2 separate regions of the Homo sapiens genome follow, and region 2 is linked to region 1. The links come from fine-mapping of genetic effects on gene expression. Tissue or cell type: whole blood. Region 1 holds a variant in brackets; the other region holds the start of a gene. All regions are shown on one strand. Distances are from middle to middle.

The links. PIP is the estimated chance that this variant, and not a neighbour inherited with it, causes the effect.
Region 2: it holds the start of MYO7A, and the variant in region 1 is fine-mapped to the expression of MYO7A in whole blood (TOPMed, PIP above 0.99). The same link has a PIP of 0.9 or more in blood mononuclear cells, lung, monocytes, tibial artery, tibial nerve and transverse colon.

Annotation. Positions count from the first base shown.
Region 1 is chr11:77,173,284-77,179,430 of GRCh38, forward strand. MYO7A (myosin VIIA) reads left to right here. Exons shown (of 49, transcript NM_000260.4): 17 at 1,473-1,631; 18 at 2,089-2,181; 19 at 4,266-4,360; 20 at 5,762-5,846. Among named protein-coding and RNA genes, the nearest start is that of MYO7A, 48 kb to the left of the region's middle. The variant G/A (reference allele first, on the strand shown) is at 2,811.
Region 2 is chr11:77,125,784-77,131,253 of GRCh38, forward strand. It overlaps MYO7A (myosin VIIA), which reads left to right and starts at 2,463. Exons shown (of 49, transcript NM_000260.4): 1 at 2,463-2,706; 2 at 4,806-4,869. The coding sequence starts at 4,852. CAPN5 (calpain 5) reads left to right here. Exons shown (of 13, transcript NM_004055.5): 13 at 1-372. RefSeq lists enhancers at 1,149-1,871, 1,872-2,595, 3,318-4,041.

The DNA of each region.
Region 1 (6,147 bases):
TTGCTGGGGCTGCTTCTTTGAAAGTCCCCTTCTCCTTTGGCCCAGCTCAACCACCACCTCCTCCTGGAAGCCTCCCCCATCTCTTCAGCTGGTTGGGATATCCTCATTCTTGACTTTTCTGAATAACATTTGTTGGGCCCTTTCTGTGTGCCCAGCATAGGCTGGATGGTCAGTCCACAGCCTCCTTCAACCTTCTCAAACAGCCCGTGAGAAAGGGACTGTGCTGGTCCCAGGTTAGAGATGCGGGACTGGGGGCTCAGGGAGGTTAAGGGGCTCAGGCTGGGGCCACCTCGCTGCGAGCCCTCTCCTTTCGCAGCACAGGCTCTGGGAGGGTTGTTTACCCAGAGGCCTGCAGGGAGGCACAGGGGGAAGCTGGGGCCTCGGGATCTGGGGAGGGAAGGAAGGCCGGGGAAAGTGGCCCGGAGAGAGAGGAAACAGTCTCCGGAAGCTGACAGGCTGCAAGACCGTCCCCTCCTGCTGCCTCCTGCCTGGAAAACATGTCCCAGAGTGGATGAGGCCTGTCCCCTTTAGGACTCAGGTCTGCAGGGGCCTGAGGGTCGCAGAGGGCTCCAGTGAGCTCTCCCTCTAATGCAGGGGGTGCAGGGGACTGACACCAGGGCAGTCGGGCACAGTCTTCCCTGGCTCTGAAGTGGGACCCTTCCCTCGGCCCAGTCCTCAGCATCTGTGGACTGGGCCTTGGCAATAGCCTCCTCAAGGGTCTCCTGCCTCCCTTGCCTCCTGTCCTGCCTCCCCTGGCCCCCAGTGACATTGTTCTCAAATGCAGACCTGGCCCAGTCTCTCCCTGCTCTAAAACTTCCCTGGCTTCCAGCATCCATGGATGAGGCCCTCACAGAGCCCCACAGCCTCACAGCCCAGCACCTGCCTTCTACTCTTTCTCCCCAGCCCCTCCACCAACCAAACCCCAGGGCCCTTTGAAAAATGTGCCTCTTCCTTAAGGCAGCTAGAAAGTTGTCTGAATAACCGCAGATCTACAATACCTGCAACGTGAAAGGTCCTCCCTGGGGCTGTGCAGAGCACCCCTCACCTGCACAGCCATAACTTGGCCTGGACGAGCCTCTCTAGCTCCCTCAAGATTCCCAGCAAAGTCCTGCGCTTTCAGGCTTCCAAACCTTTGCACAGGCTCACCCCCTCCAGCCTTGGAATACTCCCCCTCCTGTCAGGGTTAGGGTGATAAAGACGCCTCCTCCATGAAGCTCCCCACTTGGGTGTCCCAAGGGGAATTAATCTGTCTTCTCTGTGCTCCCAAAGCACACAGCTCCACCACGACAGGCCTCACTTTATGCTCTTTTGTGGATTTGAGCTGCAGATCCCGGTGCCTGTCCCAGCTTTGCTCCTCCCATGCCGTGTGGACTTGGCCTTTCTGAGCCTTTGTCTGGGTTGGTCAAGTGCACAGCAGGGCTGCCTCCCAGCAGGAGCCTTGGCCCTGATGCCCTTGGCTGTGTGCCTGGCAGCTGTTCGACCGGCACCTGTGCGTGCGCCAGCTGCGGTACTCAGGAATGATGGAGACCATCCGAATCCGCCGAGCTGGCTACCCCATCCGCTACAGCTTCGTAGAGTTTGTGGAGCGGTACCGTGTGCTGCTGCCAGGTGTGAAGCCGGCCTACAAGCAGGTACAGGGCTGAGTGCACAGAGGGCAGGAGGGGAGGGTCCCAGCTTTGGCTGGGCAAGGGTCCCAATTTTCTTATCAGGACCATGGGCGGGGCTTGACATCTGCTTGACCTCTCAGGTGCAGCACGGAAAATTGGGGTTCAGGTATTGGAATGCATCAGTGGGCTTCAGTTGCCATGTTCAGCTGGTGAGGACTTCACACATGGTGGTGTAAGGAACAAGACCAGGGCTGCCACGCGGGCCCTGGATGTCAGTTGTGAGAAAGGGTTTTGCAATCATACCATCCAGCTGAGCTAAGGAGAAAACTGGGGCTCAGAGAAGGCAGGACCCAGCTGAGGTCACACTTCGAGTCAGGGGCAGAGCTCGGGAAGAGCCCTGCCTCTCAGCCTCGGGGACACTCCGGAGGCCTTCCCACTGGAGAGGCTGTCCATTCCCTTGTGTTCCCCATCCTCACTCCAGGGCGACCTCCGCGGGACTTGCCAGCGCATGGCTGAGGCTGTGCTGGGCACCCACGATGACTGGCAGATAGGCAAAACCAAGATCTTTCTGAAGGTGAGCACAGATGCCTTCCCTGGGCTGCCCTGGGGGGGCTGTAAATTCCCATGATGTGGGCTGGGGTGCTCGGGAGAGGGAGGCAGTGCTGGGGCTTTGAGATCCTTTCTGCCGGGCTGTGGTGTGGCTGGAGGAGCAGGTGGGATCTGGCCTCTCTGGTGGGGAAGGGTAATTTGGTGTTTGAGATCATCTACAACCTGGGAGTGGGGTCAGAGCACTGACCACAGGTTACAAAGCACATGCCAGGGGCGGGCTGGCTGTTAGGCCCACAGCAGGGAGGCAGGGGTGCTGCTTGCCTTGGGGCCCTTTCTGAGCCTCATTTTCCCATCTGTAAATTGGGGTGTGCCTGTGTGGGGTCTCTTGAGTGTATCTTTAGGTTCCTTCCTGTGGTTTCCTGCCTGGCAGGGCCCATCCCGTGCTGGGGTCCGCAGCATGCCACCTGTCCGTCACTCTGTAGGGAGCTCAGCTCCCATTGCTGCCTGGGCAGCTGGGGAAGGAAGCAGGAAGCAAGGCCTGCGGGAGTCGCGGAGTCACAGCCTTGGAGACATGGCTGGGAGCTGGCAGTGGCAGGGCAGCCGCAGCAGGGACAGTGCGAGCTCCCAGTGCTGGGCTTCCCCATTTGCATTTCC[G/A]CTGTGCTAGATTTCTGGCTGTCCCGGATGACAGGGCTCCTTCCTCTGGTGTGGGGGGTGGGGCCTGGGCACTCCAAGGACAGCTGCAGGAGGGACAAGAACCAGCTCCGAACTGGAGGGAGCCTGCGGCCTCTTCTAATTCCTCTCCAGCCAAGGGGCTTCAGGCTAGGCCCTTTCTCTCCTTGCACCTGCATTTCCTCATCAGCAAGATGTGATGAATGTTCCCTGCCTGTGCCTCCCACAGCTGTCAGCCAGAAAGCACATTCCATGTGCCAGGCCCTGGGTGGGTGCTTTTCATCCATGAGCTCATTTAATCCTTGAAACAGTCCTGTGGAGAAGGAAATATTATACCCATTTCACAGGCTCAGAGAGAAGTGAGTTGCCTGAAACCAGGCAGCTAGGAAGCAGGGAGCAGGACTTCTAGTCTGGGAAGGTCTGATGCCCAGCCCCTGTGTGGGCAAAGTGGGGAAGGCAGGAATCATGATGGCATCTAGTACCAGGGAACTCGGAGGAGCTCCATCAGCCCCTGACTTACACTGCTAGGCTCTTCCGATATGGCCTTGGTTTTGAGAGGCCAAACATGCTCATTCATCCATTCATTCATTCAGAATGCCTCGGCTGAGCATCTCCTCTGTCAGGGCCCTGTGTGTCTGTGATTATCTGATGGATTTGGCTCCCTCATGAGACTCTACCCTCCCCAAGGGCAGGGGCCATGTCTCCCTGGTTCATTGTGGCAGCCCCTCCCCTCCCCAGCATCTAGCACAGTGCCAGCACATGGAGGTGTTCAATTCATATATATTAAGTGAACCAATGAAGTTTTGTCCAACTACAGTGAGGGTTGGGGTCTTGGATGAGGAGGAGAGAGGGCTGAAAAAGTTGGCAGACACCCTGGATCATGGGTGGCCTTGAATGCCAGGGTGAGGAACCCAGGCTCGACGTGGGGAACCATGAGGTGTCACTGTAGGGTCACCATCCAGGTTGTGTTGAGGAGGGTCCCTCTGGCTGCTTGTGAAGGAGCGCCAGAGAGGGAGCCAGGAGGCCGCGAGACCTTTAGTTAGGAGGCTGCTGCCAAGGTTCGGGAGAAGAATGGCAACAGCCCAGCCCAGGTGAGGGACTGATGTGACAGGGACGTCTAGAAGCAGGGGGCTTGGGCAGATTGACGATAGGGAAGAAGCTGGTGTGTGTGCATACTGGGCCTTCCGACCCCATCCAGAGAGATTAGGCACCTTCTGCTCCATTTGTCCTGCCTGGACCTCTGGGAAACAGCCACAACCCCTGTCTGTCCTGGTGGCTGTGGGAGGCTGCCCCAGGGGCCAGAGCCAGCTGGGAGCTCATGGGGCCCAACTGAGTTCTTGACCTGTGCTCCCAGTGAAGGAAGAGCAGCCCCCACTGGGACTGAGCAGGTGGTCCTAGAGGAGACCTTGTGGGGCGCTGCTCAGGAGCTCTGCCTCCTAGGACCACCATGACATGCTGCTGGAAGTGGAGCGGGACAAAGCCATCACCGACAGAGTCATCCTCCTTCAGAAAGTCATCCGGGGATTCAAAGACAGGTGCGTGTTCCCACCAGCTCCTCCCCTCCTCAGCCCACATACAGGTGTACGTGTGGTGTTTGGCTCTCCTCTGCTCTGCCCGCATGAACACTAGGAAAAAAACGTGTTCACCTATGAAACAAGTGCACACATGCATGGCATGCACACATGATCATGTAAACACAGAGGAACATAGATACATGATTTACATGGACCCATTGTGCCACGTAAGCCAAATAATGCAATACATTCACCTACATATGCACATGCACACGTAGATACATGAGACTCACATGTGGACCCACTGTTCATGTCAGATGCTGATGAAATTTTGCAAAGAGGAAATTTGAGATTTTATAAATTATTAATACAAAATGTGTCTCATATTCTATCTAAGGGATATGTGTACACGTGACAATTCACAAATGTGCAGGACTGACTCCAAAGTGTGATTAAAGCTCTGCAAAAATTCCACAATGCACCCCTTTGCAGTTCATATGGTCACTCTCTCCCTTCTTCCACTCGTCCACCCACCTACCTATCCATCCGTCCGTTCACCCACCCACCTACCCATCCATCCATCCATCCATCTGCCCACCTATTCACCCATCCATCCATCCATCCATCCACCCGCCCACACACCCACCTAGTCACTCATCCATCCACCTATCCACCCACACATTCATCCATCAATTCACCCACCAACCCATCCACCATCCATCCATCCACCCACCCACCCATCCATTCACTCATCAGTCCACCCACCCATCCACCTACCCATTCATTCCTCCATTCATCCATTCACCCACCCACTCCCACAGTTGCTCATTTGCTTATGTGTGTCTCCAAGCATTGACTTATTGGCTCACTTGCATACTTGCACACCCATCCTTCGCTCTTCCTTTATTTATTTCTACATTCAGCAGACCCCTGCTGTCTGTGCATGGTCTCTGTCCTCTATCAGGCTGAAGATGACTGTTCTCCTATAGAAGCAGCCTGCTGTGTGCAGGGGGAACAGCACTGGGCTCACTTAGGGTCAGTCAGAAGACATGGGCTCTAGTCCCAACCTATCAAGTCTCAGTTGCCTCATGTATAAACTGAGGAAGTTAGACTGTTCAAAGCTTTTGATCTTTATATTATTTTAATTACTTATTTTTTCATACATTTATTCATTCAACAAATACCTTTTGAATGTCTACCTTCATGGGCTTATGTGACAGGCCTGTGGGGCAGGCAGGGCAGGCATTATTCTACACATTGTACGGATGAGGAAGCTGAGGCACAGAAGTTATGTGCCTTGCCCAAGGTCATATAGCTAGGAAGTCACAGAGCTGGGACTCAGCGTGCCCTCCTGATCCCAAACCCACCTGTACCCTGGCTGCCTCTGGACACTGCTCACCCGCGCCACTACTGCTGTTTCAGGTCTAACTTTCTGAAGCTGAAGAACGCTGCCACACTGATCCAGAGGCACTGGCGGGGTCACAACTGTAGGAAGAACTACGGGCTGGTGAGCCTCCCCATGGGCTGCTCTTGCCCAAACAGGCCTTTGAACCCAGCCTTGCTGCCATGGCAGTGGGACTGGCCTGCACCCAGGCAGCACAGCCTGGCCTCGTTGGCCTCCTGCCACTGCCCTGGCCAGCCACTACCATTCCTCCAGACCGAAGTCTGGATCTGGCTCTTGTGGCTTCTTCCAACTGGCCAGCAATGTTTGTTGCTCTCCTTCTGGAGTGTTTTTGGGGGTTGGGAGCACTCTGGGATTATTAGAGATCTCAGACAGGGTGAGAGTGGCTGGGTCACATGGACCTCTG
Region 2 (5,470 bases), 48 kb before region 1:
AAGTGGCAGACCTGTGGGCTTCAGCCTCGGGGCCGGGGCATGCCTGCCACCCCCTGACAAAAACAGGTTCCACAGTGCTACCCTTGCTTCCTGCCCCTTGAGGTGGGCCAGGCTGGCTCCTGGCTATGCAGGGATCTCTGGTCCCCAGGAGACCTTGGGGGCCAGGCAGGTAAGGATCAGGGGTGATAGGGGAGAGCAATTACTTTGTTCACTGTATGCACCCGCGGGGGCCTGGGAGTCCCCATTTGCAGGTGGGTAGGGCCTCCAGCCCACACCACCCAGACCTAGGCTTCCCTCTTCTCAGGATCCACCACAGGGTTAGGGGACAGGAAGCCTGTTCTATTCTCAATAAATCTTACAAAATTCCAAAAAGACTTTCCTGTGTCCCTCTGTCCCCCTGGGGGGAAGGGACAATGGAGGAATATTCCCCAGGCCTGGGCGACTGTCCGCTGGTCAGAGGGAAGGCCCCGCTGCCTGCCCGGTGCACCTGTGAGCTGAGATTGTGGGGATCATTCAGTCATTCCTTTATTCAGTAGATCTGTACGGGGCTGGCTTTGTGCCAAGGCCTGCCCCGGGCACCTGGGATGTGGGGAACCAGGCATAGCAATCCCTGCTCTGGGACAGTCTACAAACGAGCAGCGAGAACAAAGACATACTCTGGTCATGACAGACACTACCCCGCACATTACTGATGGGGCAGTGTGGGCCTGCTGGGTTAGAGACGGCCTACTCCCTGATCTGTGCATGAAGGGCTGGGAAGAGGAGATGGGCCTTCGGGGCACAGGAAGGTGTGGGGGGACCAGAGCGGAGGCTGCTGAGGGCAGATGCAGGCATCTAGGGCCAGGAAGCTGGTGTGGTGGTGGGGAGAAGCAGGGTTGGGATGACTGAAAGCAGAGTGGACGACTCAATGAAAAACGACTTGGGAGACGGGGTGAGTGCAGTGTGAGGGCAAAGTGAACCGAGATGCCTCGCTTTCTTCATGGGACTGAGAAATGGGTATTGCAAATCGTGTGATCTGCTTAGCATAGTGCCTGGTTCATAGCATGGCTGAACACAATGTAGCTGTCATCCTGGTGTTTGGAGGCCGCCCTGTCCCCCATAACCTGCCCACCTCTCTGCCCCATTCCCACAGCTCACTGCATTTTGTCCCTGCTGCCAGTCGTGTGCCATGGGCTCTCCTGTGCTCCCCCGGGGTCTCATTTCCCCATCCGTGTAGGGCTGACGCCACTGGCCCCGCCCAGCCTGGGAGGATGGAGAGGGGGGACTTGAGGAGTGGCCAGTACTGGGTTTCGGCAGCAGGTGCAAATCCCAGGTGGGGACTGTGTTCCAGGGACTCCTGGACTCCTGTTAGGCCAGCAGGCTAAGGGGCAGACGGCATCCTGGGGTCTTCCTGGGACAGGGTCGTCGGGTCTGAGGGGACCCAGGCCCTAGCAGAAGCTGACTCCTGTCACGGTCACTTCCCAGCGGTGCTCAGCCCGCCTGACGGAAGCAGCTGGGCAGTGGGGCCTGTGACCAGCAGGCGGCGCTGGCGAGCTATAGCGCCCCTTTGGGCCCCCACCCCACCTTCTGGGCAGCTTCCCTGCAGACACCCCAGTTATGGGGGCTAGGGACCCAAAAGAGACATCCTTCTGCCACCCAGAGCTGCCCTGGCGAGGTGCACTATGGGGCCGCCGACAGCTGCGTGGCTGCCGAGGGCGGAAAGGAGAAACTGTCATGTCCCGATAGGGCCGCGCGAGGTCTCCATCCTCGACAACGCTAATAACAAAGACGTGTGCTCCTCTTTGCTTGGTTCCCCCCACTCCTTTAAATCACAGATTTCACTTCAGTTTATCTGTGTCGCTGTCACACGTGGGGTGGCTCCCAGTCAGCTGGTTTGGCAAAGTTTCTGGATGATTACGGAATAACATGTGTCCCCAACCCGCAGAGCAGGTTGTGGGGGCAATGTTGCATTGACCAGCGTCAGAGAACACACATCAGAGGCAAGGGTGGGTGTGCAGGAGGGAGAAGGCGCAGAAGGCAGGGCTTTAGCTCAGCACTCTCCCTCCTGCCATGCTCTGCCTGACCGTTCCCTCTCTGAGTCCCAAACAGCCAGGTAGAGGAGGAAGAAATGGGGCTGAGACCCCAGCACATCAGTGATTAAGTCAGGATCAGGTGCGGTTTCCTGCTCAGGTGCTGAGACAGCAGGCGGTGTCCTGCAAACAACAGGAGGCACCTGAAGCTAGCCTGGGGGGCCCACGCCCAGGTGCGGTGCATTCAGCAGCACAGCCAGAGACAGACCCCAATGACCCCGCCTCCCTGTCGGCAGCCAGTGCTCTGCACAGAGCCCTGAGCAGCCTCTGGACATTAGTCCCAGCCCCAGCACGGCCCGTCCCCCACGCTGATGTCACCGCACCCAGACCTTGGAGGCCCCCTCCGGCTCCGCCTCCTGGGAGAAGGCTCTGGAGTGAGGAGGGGAGGGCAGCAGTGCTGGCTGGACAGCTGCTCTGGGCAGGAGAGAGAGGGAGAGACAAGAGACACACACAGAGAGACGGCGAGGAAGGGAAAGACCCAGAGGGACGCCTAGAACGAGACTTGGAGCCAGACAGAGGAAGAGGGGACGTGTGTTTGCAGACTGGCTGGGCCCGTGACCCAGCTTCCTGAGTCCTCCGTGCAGGTGGCAGCTGTACCAGGCTGGCAGGTCACTGAGAGTGGGCAGCTGGGCCCCAGGTAAGGATGGGCTGCCCACTGTCCTGGGCATTGGGAGGGGTTTGGATGTGGAGGAGTCATGGACTTGAGCTACCTCTAGAGCCTCTGCCCCACAGCCACTTGCTCCTGGGACTGGGCTTCCTGCCACCCTTGAGGGCTCAGCCACCACAGCCACTGAATGAAACTGTCCCGAGCCTGGGAAGATGGATGTGTGTCCCCTGGAGGAGGGAAGAGCCAAGGAGCATGTTGTCCATCGAATCTTCTCTGAGCTGGGGCTGGGGTTAGTGGCATCCTGGGGCCAGGGGAATAGACATGCTGTGGTGGCAGAGAGAAGAGTCCGTTCTCTCTGTCTCCTTTGCTTTCTCTCTGACACTCTTTATCTCCGTTTTTGGATAAGTCACTTCCTTCCTCTATGCCCCAAATATCCCATCTGTGAAATGGGAGTATGAAGCCCCAACAGCCAGGGTTGTAGTGGGGAAGAGGTAAAATCAGGTATAGACATAGAAATACAAATACAGTCTATGCCCCCTGTTGTCAGTTGGAAAAGAAATTAACTTGAAGGTGGTCTAGTTCTCATTTTTAGAAATGAAATGTCTGTCTGGTCATTTTAAAATGTGGCCCTTAAATTTCACGCCCTCACCACTCTCCCCCATCCCTTGGAGCCCCATGTCTCTAGTGAAAGCACTGGCTCTGCCCCCAGCCCTCATGGCTCATGCTGGCATAGGGCGCCTGCTCCACAGCCTGGGCACCATCTTCAGACAAGTGCCCGGTGGCAACTGCCTGCTGGCCCTGTTGAATCCACATCTCCACCAGGCATCCAGACTAGTTCAGGTCTCTGGAAGGACTGTGGGTTTGCTGTGTCCCAGAGCTCCAGGGCAGGGGTCAGGGCTCGGATGTCGGGCAGTGTCATGGGCAGAGGATCGAATGCCCCGGCGGCTCTGAATGGGCCCTTGTGAAAAATTGATGCGCATTCTAGGAGACAGGTTGGGAGCCAGAGGGGCCTCATACCAGGGTCTGTAGGCTGGGGCTGCCTTTTAAGCTCCTTCCTGAGGCCGTCTCTGGGTCTGGCCCTGTGCTGGACAAGGCTGGAGACAAGGCAATGTCTCAGACCCTCTCCCATTGGCCACATCCTGCCCTGGATCAACTCGCCAACTTTGGGGGCAGAGGTGGGACTGACCCTTACCCTGACAACATAATGCATATAGTCAAAATGGGATAAAGGGGAATATAGAGGCTCTTGGCAGCTTGGGAGTGGTCAGGGAAGGCTTCCTGGAGGAGGTATCATCTGAACTGAGCCATGAACCATAAGTGGAAATTCACTAGTCAAAATTTCAGGTAGAAGGGCCAGTGTGTGAAGGCCAGGAGATGGCAAGAGCTGGCGTATTTCAGGAACAGTGAGTCACTGAGGATGTCCAAGTATAAGGGTAGGAAAGGGAGTGAGCAGTGAGAGAAAAGACCGAGGCATCAGCAGGGGCCAGATTGTGCTGGGCCTAGCGGGGCGGGCCCGGGCCCGGGCCCAGGCCCAGGTGCGGTGCATTCAGCAGCACAGCCAGAGACAGACCCCAATGACCCTGCCTCCCCGTCAGCAGCCAGTGCTCTGCACAGAGCCATCCTGAGGGCAGTGGGTGCTCTTGAGAGGTTTCAGGCAGGGTGTGCTGTGAGCAGGTCATGCCCAGCCCTTGACCTTCTGCTCAGTCAGGCTTGTCCTTGTCACCCACATTCCTGGGGCAGTCCCTAAGCTGAGTGCCGGAGATTAAGTCCTAGTCCTAAATTTGCTCTGGCTAGCTGTGTGACCCTGGGCAAGTCTTGGTCCCTCTCTGGGCCCCTTTGCCGTAGGTCCCTGGTGGGGCCAGACTTGCTACTTTCTAGGAGCCCTTTGGGAATCTCTGAATGACAGTGGCTGAGAGAAGAATTCAGCTGCTCTGGGCAGTGGTGCTGGTGACAGTGGCTGAGGCTCAGGTCACACAGGCTGGGCAGTGGTCAGAGGGAGAGAAGCCAAGGAGGGTTCCCTTGAGGGAGGAGGAGCTGGGGCTTTGGGAGGAGCCCAGGTGACCCCAGCCAGGCTCAAGGCTTCCAGGGCTGGCCTGCCCAGAAGCATGACATGGTCTCTCTCCCTGCAGAACTGTGCCTGGCCCAGTGGGCAGCAGGAGCTCCTGACTTGGGACCATGGTGATTCTTCAGCAGGTCAGTGTTCCCACCTCTTTGGGTGGCCTGTCCTCCCCAGGCCATATCCCCTCATCCATATGCTTACCCGTGGGACACCCTCCCCAGGGTGTTCTCTTGGAAAATTCCTGCCTAGGCTTCCAAACCCAGCCCTCCAGGCTGAGGCCTAGTCTGAAACCTGTTCCCTCTGCTGTGCCAGCTGGGGTTTCCTTCTCTCACTGGCTCACCCCACTGGGCAGAAATGAGTTTATTTACACACATCTCTGGATCCCAGGCAGTGGAACAGCATGTGCAAAGGCCCAGGTGTGGGAAGGTCCCTGGGGAAGAGGAGAGGAGGTTGGCAAGGCTCCCAAAGCCAGGCCAGGAAGGGCCCTGAGCCCAACTTATTCTTAGGGCCTTGGGGAGCAGTGACTGGAGGGCGGGGGGTGACAAGGCTTGAGCTGGAGCCCCCTGGGATTTTATGGGAAGAAGCAGAGGTGCTGGCCCGAGCTGAGTCCTCCAGCCCCCCTTCCTACTGAGGGCCACAGTGGCCTCTGACCCTCAGCCCTTCCCCGTGATCAGTCTGAGGCTCTAATGAGCTCCTGGCCTCCAGAGCAGGAGCCAGGAATGTGGGCCCTGAGCC